Regions from separate parts of the Homo sapiens genome. Here region 2 is linked to region 1. Evidence: fine-mapped expression QTL. A gene starts in region 1. The other region holds a variant in brackets. All regions are shown on one strand. Distances are between the middles of the regions. Region 1 holds the start of PSMC4 (proteasome 26S subunit, ATPase 4). Region 2 overlaps FCGBP (Fc gamma binding protein).

The links.
Region 2: its variant is fine-mapped to the expression of PSMC4 in whole blood (INTERVAL, PIP 0.96).

Annotation. Positions count from the first base shown.
Region 1 is chr19:39,968,147-39,973,523 of GRCh38, forward strand. It overlaps PSMC4 (proteasome 26S subunit, ATPase 4), which reads left to right and starts at 3,019. Exons shown (of 11, transcript NM_006503.4): 1 at 3,019-3,092; 2 at 4,000-4,098; 3 at 4,223-4,409. The coding sequence starts at 3,057. It overlaps LOC124904720 (a long non-coding RNA gene), which reads right to left and starts at 2,825. Exons shown (of 3, transcript XR_007067260.1): 1 at 2,734-2,825; 2 at 2,208-2,290. RefSeq lists enhancers at 2,339-2,388, 2,889-3,278, 3,303-3,982.
Region 2 is chr19:39,928,652-39,934,028 of GRCh38, forward strand. All of the region lies in intron 1 of FCGBP (Fc gamma binding protein), which reads right to left. Among named protein-coding and RNA genes, the nearest start is that of FCGBP, 3.3 kb to the right of the region's middle. The variant T/TTGTG (reference allele first, on the strand shown) is at 2,305.

The DNA.
Region 1 (5,377 bases):
GGGCTGTTATGAGATCATGGTTTGGAATTTTCCTGGCCAAAAGTGAATGCGCAAGTGGTGTCTCGTGTGACAACCCATGATCCATCCACCAAATAGAAAACAATGTCCAAACACACAAAATATCAAGAGTATACATACAAATGGTGGGAGTGTAAATTAATACAGTCTGACAGTGTCTACTAAAGCTAAACACATACCTGCCCTACGACCAGCAATTCCACACTTGGGTCTATTTTGTTTTTGTTTTTGTTTTTCTTTGGGAGGGGGATCTATTTTCAGAAGAAATGAATACGTAAGTTTGTCCAAAGAAATGTACTAGAATATTCATAGTGAGAGACAGGACTAGCTGGATTTCCTAGGCCGACTAAGAATCCCTAAGCCAACTGGGAAGGTGACCGCATCCACCTTTAAACAAGGGGCTTGCCACTTAGGTCACACCCAACCAATCAGGTAGTAAAGAGAGCTCACTAAAATGCGAATTAGGCAAAAACAGAAGGTAAAGAAATAGCCAATCATCTAACGCCTGAGAGCACAGAGAGAGGGACAATGATCGGCGGGATATAACCCAGCACTGGAGCCCGCAAGGCAATCCCCTTTGGGTCTCCTCCCATTTTATGGGAGCTCTGTTTTCACTCTATTAAACCTTGCAACTGTACACTCTTCTGGTCTGTGTTTGTTATGGCTTGAGCTGAGCTTTCGCTCACTGTCCACCGCTGCTGTCTGCTGCCATGGCAGCTGTGGCAGACCTGCCGCTGACTTCCACCCCTCCGGATCCGGGTGTCCACTGCACTTCTGATCCAGCGAGGCGGCACCCATTGCCGCTCCCAATTGGGCTAGAGGCTCACCATTGTTCTTGCGCGGGCTAAGTGCCCGGGGTTCCTCCTAATCGAGCTGAATAGAGCTATAACACTCACCGCATGGCCCAAGATTCCATTCCTTGGAATCCGTGAGGCCAAGAACCCCAGGTCAGAGAACAAGAGACTTACTGCCATCTTGGAAGCGGCCCACCACCATCTTGGGAGCTCTAAGAACAAGGACCCCCAGTAACAATAGCACTATAACACCCCTAAACTGGAAAATATCCAGTCTGAGGTATAGGGCATAGTCATAAAATGGAAACCATCCAGAATGAAAATGAAAGAACTATTTCTACACACGGTATGCATGAATCTCACAAAAACAACATTAACTAAAAGAAACCAAACACAGTACACAGAGTACTGGTCTAGAGAGAAGGAGAATTCAAAACAAACAAAAGTAACCCAGCTGTTACAAGTCAGGGCGAGTCCAGCCAGGCACAGTGGCTCATGTCTGTAATCCCAGCACTTTGGAAGGCTGAAGTGGGAGGATCATCTGAGTCCAGGAGTTCGTGACCAGCCTGGGCAACACAGCGAAACCCTATCTCTACAAAAAACATTTTAAAATTAGCAAGGCGTGGTGGCACACGCCTGTAGTTCCAGGTGCTTGGGAAGCTGAGGTATAGGATTGCTTGAGTCTGGGAGGTTGAACCTGGAGTGAGTAGTGATCTCACCACTGCACTCCAGCCTGGGCAACAGAGCAAGAATCTCTTTCAAAAGATATATTTTTAAAGGCTACATGGGGTGGGTCATGCCTGTAATCCCAGTGCTTTCAGAGGCTGAGGAGAGAGGATAGCTTGAGGCCAGCAGTTGGAGACTCTAGTGAGCTATGATCGTGCCACTGCACTCCAGCCTGGGCGACAGAGACTCTAGCTCTTAAAAAAAAAAGAAAAAAACAGATGAATGATAACCTTTAGAAGGGATCGGGAGGCCGGATGTGGTGGCTCACGCCTATAATCCCAGCACTTTGGGAGGCCAAGGCAGGCAGATCACTTGAGGTCAGGAGTTTGTGACCGGCCTGGCCAACATGGTGAAACCCTGTCTCTACTAAAAATACAAATATTAGCCTGGGCAACAGAGTGAGACTCCGTCTCGGGGCGGGGAGTGGAGGGGGGAGAAGAAGGGATGGGGGAAAGGGGAGCACATGAGGCTTCTACTGTTTGGTTTTGCGATCTGGATTCAGGTTGTATGGGCATGTTCACTTTGTGTAATTTTGTCGAGCTGTAATGATTTGTGCTCTTCTCTTTATTTAACTTCAATAAAAGGTTTACTTAACAAAAATTGTAGCTGGTGTGAAGGGTAGCAGTGTTTCCCTGGGGCCAAGAGTACAGGCTTTGGGGACAGACAGACCTGGGTCCCAATCTATGCTTTGTCCCTTCGGCACATTGTTGACTGTGGCTGGTGGCTTCGTGGCTCTGAGCTTGTCTCCTTCTCTATAAATGAGGAAACATAATACTTGCGACGATGATGCCTGTAAAGCTTAAGCGCAGGACCTGGCATAGATCTGTAAGGCGGAAACCTGGGATACAGAACTAAGGTCTATGGATCTCCTGTGCTACCCAACTTCTGGGCACTCGCTGCCTCCTTTTCCCCAGCCCAGACGCGTGGGTTCTACTCGATTGGTTGCTCACTGCGGGCTCGGGGCTCCTCAATCCCGGGGTAAAGCCCAGTATGAAATGTCACCTTCAGGGGCAGCTCGGATCTTCCCACGCCCGCGCGGCGCACAATCTTTGGATCAGCGCCACGTGGAGACCTTACCCGCCCGTACGATCAATCCCTTCTGTGGAACCCAGCTCAAGGACCCTCCAGCCCAGACACTAGAAAGCGAAGAGCAGTTGGCCGCCAGACTGTCCGTGCCAGAGCTCTGCGAACTTACTCCGTTGAAAGAGCAACGGGGCTGCGCCACCTCCCGGAGAGAACCCCCAGCCCTCCACGGCAGGGCGAGATGGCGCCACCGCGTGATACTGCGCACGCCCACAGCTCCCGTCCCGCCCTCGCGCCTGCGGGTACGGACAGCGCATGAGCTTATGTTGAGGGCGGAGCCCAGACCAGCCCTTCGTCCTATCCTGCCCTTCCAGCACCTCTCAGCCGTAACTTAAACTACACTTCCCAGAAGCCTCCTCAGCCAGGGACTTCCGTTGTCGTCAGCGGAAGCGGTGACAGATCATCCCAGGCCACACAGAGGCCGGCTTGGTCACTATGGAGGAGATAGGCATCTTGGTGGAGAAGGCTCAGGTACAGTGGGGACTTGGGCTTTTTAGTCCGGGCCGGGCTCGCGGGGAGAGGGTGAAGCCAGACCTGAGTGGGGGGAGGAATGGCTTCCAGGACCCCGGCCCAGGTTGGGGTTATTTTAGAGGCCTCGGTGGAGAGCTTTGTGCCATTCGAAGGCCTGTCTGGGTGGCCGAGTGATGGTAGGAGGTAAGGCTCAGAAAGCGGGGCTGGGGGAGTGAGTGACGTTAGTGGGTCTTTGAGACGGATTGATTTCGAACCCTGGCCGGTAGTGCTTAGTGAGGTCGGTGGCCCGGCGTTGGGATTGGGTCAGGCGGTGAGTGATATATGGGATCCCGCCGTGCGGCCGAGTGATCCCCGGGTCTGGGCTGCGGGGCTGACTGATGTTCAGGGCTTTGCTGATGGGGGTAATGGGGCGGGTAGTTAAGTATTATCTGTGGCTTGCCTGAGTGATATTTAGGTCTAAGGTGAGTTAGGAGACTGTGACATAAGGGATCTTTGAGGGGAAACTGGGGAATGTTGGGACTCGTTGAAGGCGCAGTCACTTTAACAGCCTATCTAGGAGAGCCATGTGACATTAGGAACCTCTTGAAGGGGATTGGGTGGCATTTGGGTCTGATAAGGAGTTGATGTGACGTTTAGATCCTAGTTGGGGGTTGTGTGACACTGGGGACATGTTATGAGTGGTATATGATAACATAAGATCTGTTTGAGGGGCAAGTTGACATAAAGAGCTTGTTTAGGTGGCCAAAAGGTTTCCAGGATCTATTTAGAGGGTCTTAAGATATCAGGGGTCTGTTAGGGGCTAAGTGACATCAGGGTGAAGTGGGGAGGGGAACAAACATTAGTGAAGTTGGGAAGCTTTCATGAGAGGACTGTCTTCTTCCAATGTGAGTTATCCCCTTTCGTCTAGGATGAGATCCCAGCACTGTCCGTGTCCCGGCCCCAGACCGGCCTGTCCTTCCTGGGCCCTGAGCCTGAGGACCTGGAGGACCTGTACAGCCGCTACAAGGTACATTCGACCCCCAACCCAGACCTTGCACAGGACCTGACATCTCATACTCTTCCCCACTTTCCACCACTCTCTGGATCAGCAAGTCTGGAGCCATCCCCTTCTGTCCCCTCTCTGCTCGCAGAAGCTGCAGCAAGAGCTGGAGTTCCTGGAGGTGCAGGAGGAATACATCAAAGATGAGCAAAAGAACCTGAAAAAGGAATTTCTCCATGCCCAGGAGGAGGTGAAGCGAATCCAAAGCATCCCGCTGGTCATCGGACAATTTCTGGAGGCTGTGGATCAGAATACAGCCATCGTGGGCTCTACCACAGGTGTGCTAAGGACACCTCATTCATTCATCTGTCCACTTAACAACTATTTCCTACCATGTGCTAGGCAGCAGCAAACAAGGCAGGGCAGTGCAGTGCAATGTTCTTCAGAGTATTTTGACTGATCGAAAGGTAGAAATACATACATATATATATATATACACATATATATATGTATATCTATGTTTTTTTTGTTTGTTTGTTTTTTGTTTTGAGACAGAGTTTTGCTCTTGTCCAGGCTGGAGTGCAATGGCATGATCTCGGCTCACTGCAACCTCCACCTCCCAGGTTCACACGATTCTCCTGTCTCAGCCTCCCAAGTAGCTGGGATTACAGGCATGGACCACCAAGTCTGGCTAATTTTTGTATTATTAGTAGAGACAGGGTTTCACCATGTTGGCCAGTCTGGTCTTGAACTCCTGACCTCAGGCGATCCACCCGCCTCACCCTCCGAAAGTGTTGGGATTACAGGCCTGAGCCCCACTGCACCTGGCCAGAAATGTATTTTACATTGTGATTATCTGTATCTGTCTCTTACTTTTTAGATAGATGTGTAAAACATAAGTTTCACCATGAAATATTTAGCCTTACTAGGTGTGGTATATGCTGATGTTTTCTATCCTATTCTAGTCTGTTTTGCTTTAAACACAGTTCTGGTCATGACCTTCCAAATTGATTTCACAACTACTACTGGTTTGGGGCCTGCAGTTTGAAACGATGAGTAGGAGTGTTAAGAGATTGGGCTCTGAGGCCAGGCATGGTGCCTCACACGTATAATCCCAGTACTTTGGGAGACTCAGGTGGGCAGATCACTTGAGGCCAGAAGTTTGAGACCAGGCTGGGCAACATGGCAAAACCCCGTCTCTACTGAAAATATAAAAATTAGCTGGGTGTGGTGGCACACACTTGCCATCCCAGCTACGCAGGTGGTTGAGGCACAGGATCTGTTGAACCCAGGAGGTGGAGGTTGC
Region 2 (5,377 bases), 39 kb before region 1:
AGAATAAAGGACAAAAACTATGTGATCACTTCAATTGATGCCAGAAAAGCATTTGATAAAATTTAACATCCTTTCGTGATAAAAACTCTCAAGAAAGTAGACACGGAAGGAACACACCCCAACATGATGAAATCCATGTACAACAGACCCACAGCTGGTATCATACTGAATGGGGAAAAACTGAAAGCCTTTGCTCTAAGATCTGGAACACAGCAAGGATGTCCACTTTCACCACTATTCTTCAACATATTATTGTTAGTCCTAGCTAAACCACTTAGACAATAGAAAAAAATAAAGGGCATCCAAACTGGAAAAAGGGCATTCAAATTATCTTTGTTTGCAGATGATATAATCTTATATTTAGAAAAACCTGAAGACAGCTGGGCTTGGTAGCTCACGCCTATAATCCCAGCACTTTAGGAGGCCGAGGTGGGTGGATCACCTGAGGTCAGGAGTTCAAGACCAGCCTGGCCAACATGGCGAAACCCAATCTCTACTAAAAAAAAACCAAACATTAGCTGGGTATAGTTGCACATGCCTGTAGTCCCAGCTACTCGGGAGGCTGGGGCAAGAGAATCTCTTGAACCCAGGAGGTGGAGGTTGCAGTGAGCCAAGATCACACCACCACACTCCAGCCTGGATGACAGAGCAAGACTCTGTCTCAAAAAAAAAAACAACTTTGGCTGGGTGCAGTGGCTCAAGCCTGTAATCCCACCACTTTGGGAGGCTGAGCTGCACAGATGAAGAGGTCAAGAGATTGAGACCATCCTGACCAACGTGGTAAAACCTGTCTCTATTAAAAATACAAAAAAATAATTAGCCTGGCATGGTGGCAGACACCTGTAATCCCAGCTACTCGGGAGGTTGAGGCAGGAGAATCGCTTGAACCTGGGAGGCAGAGATGGTAGTGAGCTGAGATGGCACCGAGCTGAGATGGCACCATTGCACTCCAGCCTGGGCAACGAGAGCAAAACTCCATCTCAAAAAACAAAAAACAAAAAACAAAACAAAAAAAACAGAAAACCTAAAGACTTCATCAAGAAGCTATTAGAACTGATAAACAAATTCACTAAACTTGCAGGATACAAAATCAACATACAAAAATCAGTAGCATTTCTATATGCTTACAGCAAACAATCTGAAAAAAAAAAAGGAAAGTAATCCCATTTACAATAGCCACAAATAAAATAAAACACCTAGGAATAAACGAAAGAAATGAAAGATCTCTACAATGAAAACTATAAAACAGTAATGAAAGAAATGGAGGAGGACACACACCAAAAAAAATGGAAAGATATTCCATGTTCATGGATTGGAAGACACAATATTGTTAAAATGTCCATACTAACCAAAGCAATCTACCGATTCAATGCAATCTCTATAAAAATACCAGTGACATTCTTCACAGAAATAGAAGACTAATCCCAAAATTTGTGTGGAAACACAAAATACCCAGAATAGCTAACGCCATCCTGAGCATAAAGAACAAAACTGGAGGAATCACATTACCTGACTTCACATTATACTACAAAACTATAATAACCAAAACAGTGTGGTACTGGCATAAAAACAAACACATGGACCAGTGGAACAGAACATAGAACCCAGAAACAAATCCACCCACCTACAGTGAATTCATTTTTGACAAAGATCCCAAGAACATACATTGCATTTATTGAAGATAAATGGTACTGGGAAAACTGGATATCCATATGCAAAGAGTGAAACTAGACCCCTATCTCTCACCACATACAAAAATCAAATCAGAATGGATTAAAGACTTAAATCTAAGACCTCAGACTACGAAACTACTACAAGAAGACATTTGGGAAACTCTCCAGTTCATTAGTCTGGGCAAAAATTTATTAAGTAATACATCAAAAGCACAGGCAACCAAAGAAAAATGGACAAATGGGATCACATCAACCTAAAAAGCTTCTGCTCAGCAAAGGAAACAATCCACAAAGTGAAGACACAACTGACAGAATAAGAGAAAATATATACAACCCATCTTAGCTAAAGCAATTAGACAAGAGAAAGAAATAAAGGCATCCAAACTGGAAAAAAAAAAAAAAGAAGTCAAATTATCCTTGTTTGCAGATGATATAATCTGATATTTAAAAAAAACCTAAAGACGCCATCAAAAAGCTATTAGAACTGATAAACAAATTCACTAAATTTGCAGGATACAAAATCAACATACAAAAATCAGTAGCATTTCTAGATGGTACTGACAAGGGATTAATAACCAGAATATAAAAGGAGCTCAAACAACTCAATAGGAAAAAAATCAAATAATCTGAT[T/TTGTG]TGTGTGTGTGTGTGTGTGTGTGTGTGTGTGTATGTGTGTGTGTTTGAGATGGGGTCTTACTCTGTCACCCCAGGCCGGACTGCAGTGGCACGATCTCAGCTAACTGCAACCTCCGCCTCCTGGGTTCAAGTGATTCTCTTGCCTCAGCCTTCCAAGTAGCTGGGATTACAGGCATGCGCCACCATGCTCGGCTAATTTTTGTACTTTTAGTAGAGACAGGGTTTCCCCATGCTGGCCAGGTTGGTCTCGAACTCCTGACCTCAAGTGATCCGCCTGCCTCGGCCTCCCAAAGTGCTGGGATTAGAGACGTGAGCCACCACGCCCGGATTAATCTGATTTTAAAATGGGCAAAAGATCTGAATAGACATTTCTCAAAGAAGACATACACATGGCCAGCAGGTATATCAAAAAATGCTCAACATCACTAATCATCAGAGAAACACAAATTAAAACCACAGTGAGATATCATCTCACTCGAGTTAAAATGGCTTTTATCCTAATGAAAGGCAGTAATGAATGCTGCTGAGCATGTGGAGAAAAGGGAACCCTGTTACCCTGTTGGTGGGAATGTAAATCAGTACAATCACTATCGATAATAATATGAAGGTTTCTCAGAAAACTAAAACTAGAACTACTGTATGATCCAGCAATTCCTTTCCTTCCAAGTCAGGAAGTCAGTATATGTAAGAGACATCTGCTCTCCCATGTTTATTGCAGCACTATTCCTAATAGCCAAGATACGGAATCAACCTAAGTGTCCATCAACAGATGAGTGGATAAAGGAAATTTGGTACATACAAACAATGGAGAATTATCCACCATAAAAAAGAATGAGATCACCCGGCACAGTGGCTCACACCTATAATCCCAGCACTTTGGGAGGCCAAGGCAGGTGGATCACTTGAGGTCAGGAGTTCAAGACGAGCCTGGCCAACATGGTGAAACCCTGTCTCTACCAAAACTACAAAAATTAGCCAGGAATGGTGGCATGTACCTGTAATCCCAGCTACTCGGGAGGCTGAGGCACGAGAATCACTTGAACCTGGGAGGCGGAGGTTGCAGTGAGCCAAGATCGCGCCACTGTACTCCAGCCTGGGCAACAGAGTGAGACTCGGTCTCAAAAAAAAAAAAAAAAAAGGAATGAGATCCTGTCATTTGCAACAACATGGATGGAACTGGAGGACATGATGTTAAGTGAAATAAGCCAGTATAGAAAGACAAATTTCACATGTTCTCACTCATAGATGGGAATTTAAAATTTTTAACTGATGAACTCATAGAAATAGAGAGTAAAATGATGGTTACGATGATTACCACAGGCTGGAAAGTGTAGCGGGGACTGGGGGATAAGTAGATATGGTTAATGGGTACAAAAATACAGTTAAACAGTTAGATAAAATAGATAAAATCTAGTATTTGGTAGCAGAACAGGATGACTATTGTTGACGATAATTTATGGTATATTTTAAAATAACTGAGAGTGGAATTGGAATGTTCCTAACACAAAGAAATGACAAATGCTTGAAGTGAGGGATGCCCTAGTTACCCTGATTTTATCATTACACACTGTATGCCTGTATCAAAATATCACAGGTACCCCATAAATGCAAACCCATAAAAATTAAAAATTTTAAAAATATATAAACTAGTAAAAAAAAAAAAAGTGGATTGTTGGTACTAGCTTTCACCTGTTATAATGAAAGAATGTGAGCTTTTTTAAATTGTAAGACCTTCCTGTTTTTCTTTTTTTTTTTCTTCTGAGATGGAGTCTCGCTCTGTCACCCAGGCTGGAGTGCAGTGGCACGATCTCGGCTCACCACAACCTCTGCCTCTCAGGTTCGAGTGATTCTACCACCTCAGCCTCCCGAGTACTGGGACTACAGGTGTGCGCCACCAGGCACAGTTAACTTTTGTATTTTTTCTTTTTTTTCTTTTGAAATGGAGTCTCACTCTGTTACCCAGGCTGGAGTGCAGTGGCGCGATCCTGGGTCACTGCAACCTCTGCCTCCCGGTTTCCACGCCCAGCTAATTTCTGTATTTTTAGTAGAGATGGGGTTTCACCCTGTTGGCCAGGCTGGTCTCAAATTCCTGACCTCAGGTGATCCACCTGCCTCGGTCTCCCAAAGTGCTGGGATTACAGGCGTAAGCCACCACGCCTGGCCGTTCTTTCTGTTTTTAAAGAGAATGTGGCTATCTGAATTTTCATGTGAAATCTCCAACCCACAATTGTTTTAAGCACTTTGGGGCTCAAGGTGGATGTACTCTGCTGCCAGTGTATGATTTCCATCTTTTTACAAACTGGAGTGCAGTGGCTTAAACACAACACACTGCAGCCTCAACCTCCTGGGCTCAAGGGATCCTCCTGTCTCAGCTTCTGGTATAGCTGGGACCACAGGCACGCACTGTGTGCCTGGCTCATTTTTTAATTTTTTTCTAGAGGCAGGGTCTCACTTTGTTGCCCAAGCTGGTCTTGAACTCCTGGGCTCAAGTGATCCTCCTGCATCAGCCTCCCGAAGTGCTGGGATTACAGACGTGACCAACTGTACCCAGCTGGTTTTTGTCTTAATAGGACTTGTGGGGGCCAGGCGCGGTGGCTCTTGCCTGTAATCCCAGCACTTTGGGAAGCCAACGCGGGTGGATCACTTGAGGTCGGGAGTTCATGAGCAGACTGACCAACGTGGTGAAATTCCATCTCTACTAAAAATGCAAAATTAGCCGGACATGGTGGCATGGGGCGCCTGTAATCCCAGCTACTAGGGAGGCTGAGGCAGGAGAATCGCTTGAACCCAGGAGGTGGAGGTTGCAATTAGCTGAGATCACACCATTGCACTCCAGTCTAGGCAACAAGAGTGAAACTCCATCTCAAATAATAATAATAATAATAATAATAATAATAATAATAATGGGACTTGGGGGTTTGTGAAAAGGGGATAAAGAGAAGAAGGGGATTATGGAAGGGTGAATGAATTGTCTCCTAGAAATAGATGGCAGTGGGGGCTTCTGACCACCCCCAACTAGGAAGAGCGTCCCTGGGGCTGAGGAGAGAGAGGTCTAAGGAATCTTGAAGAGAGT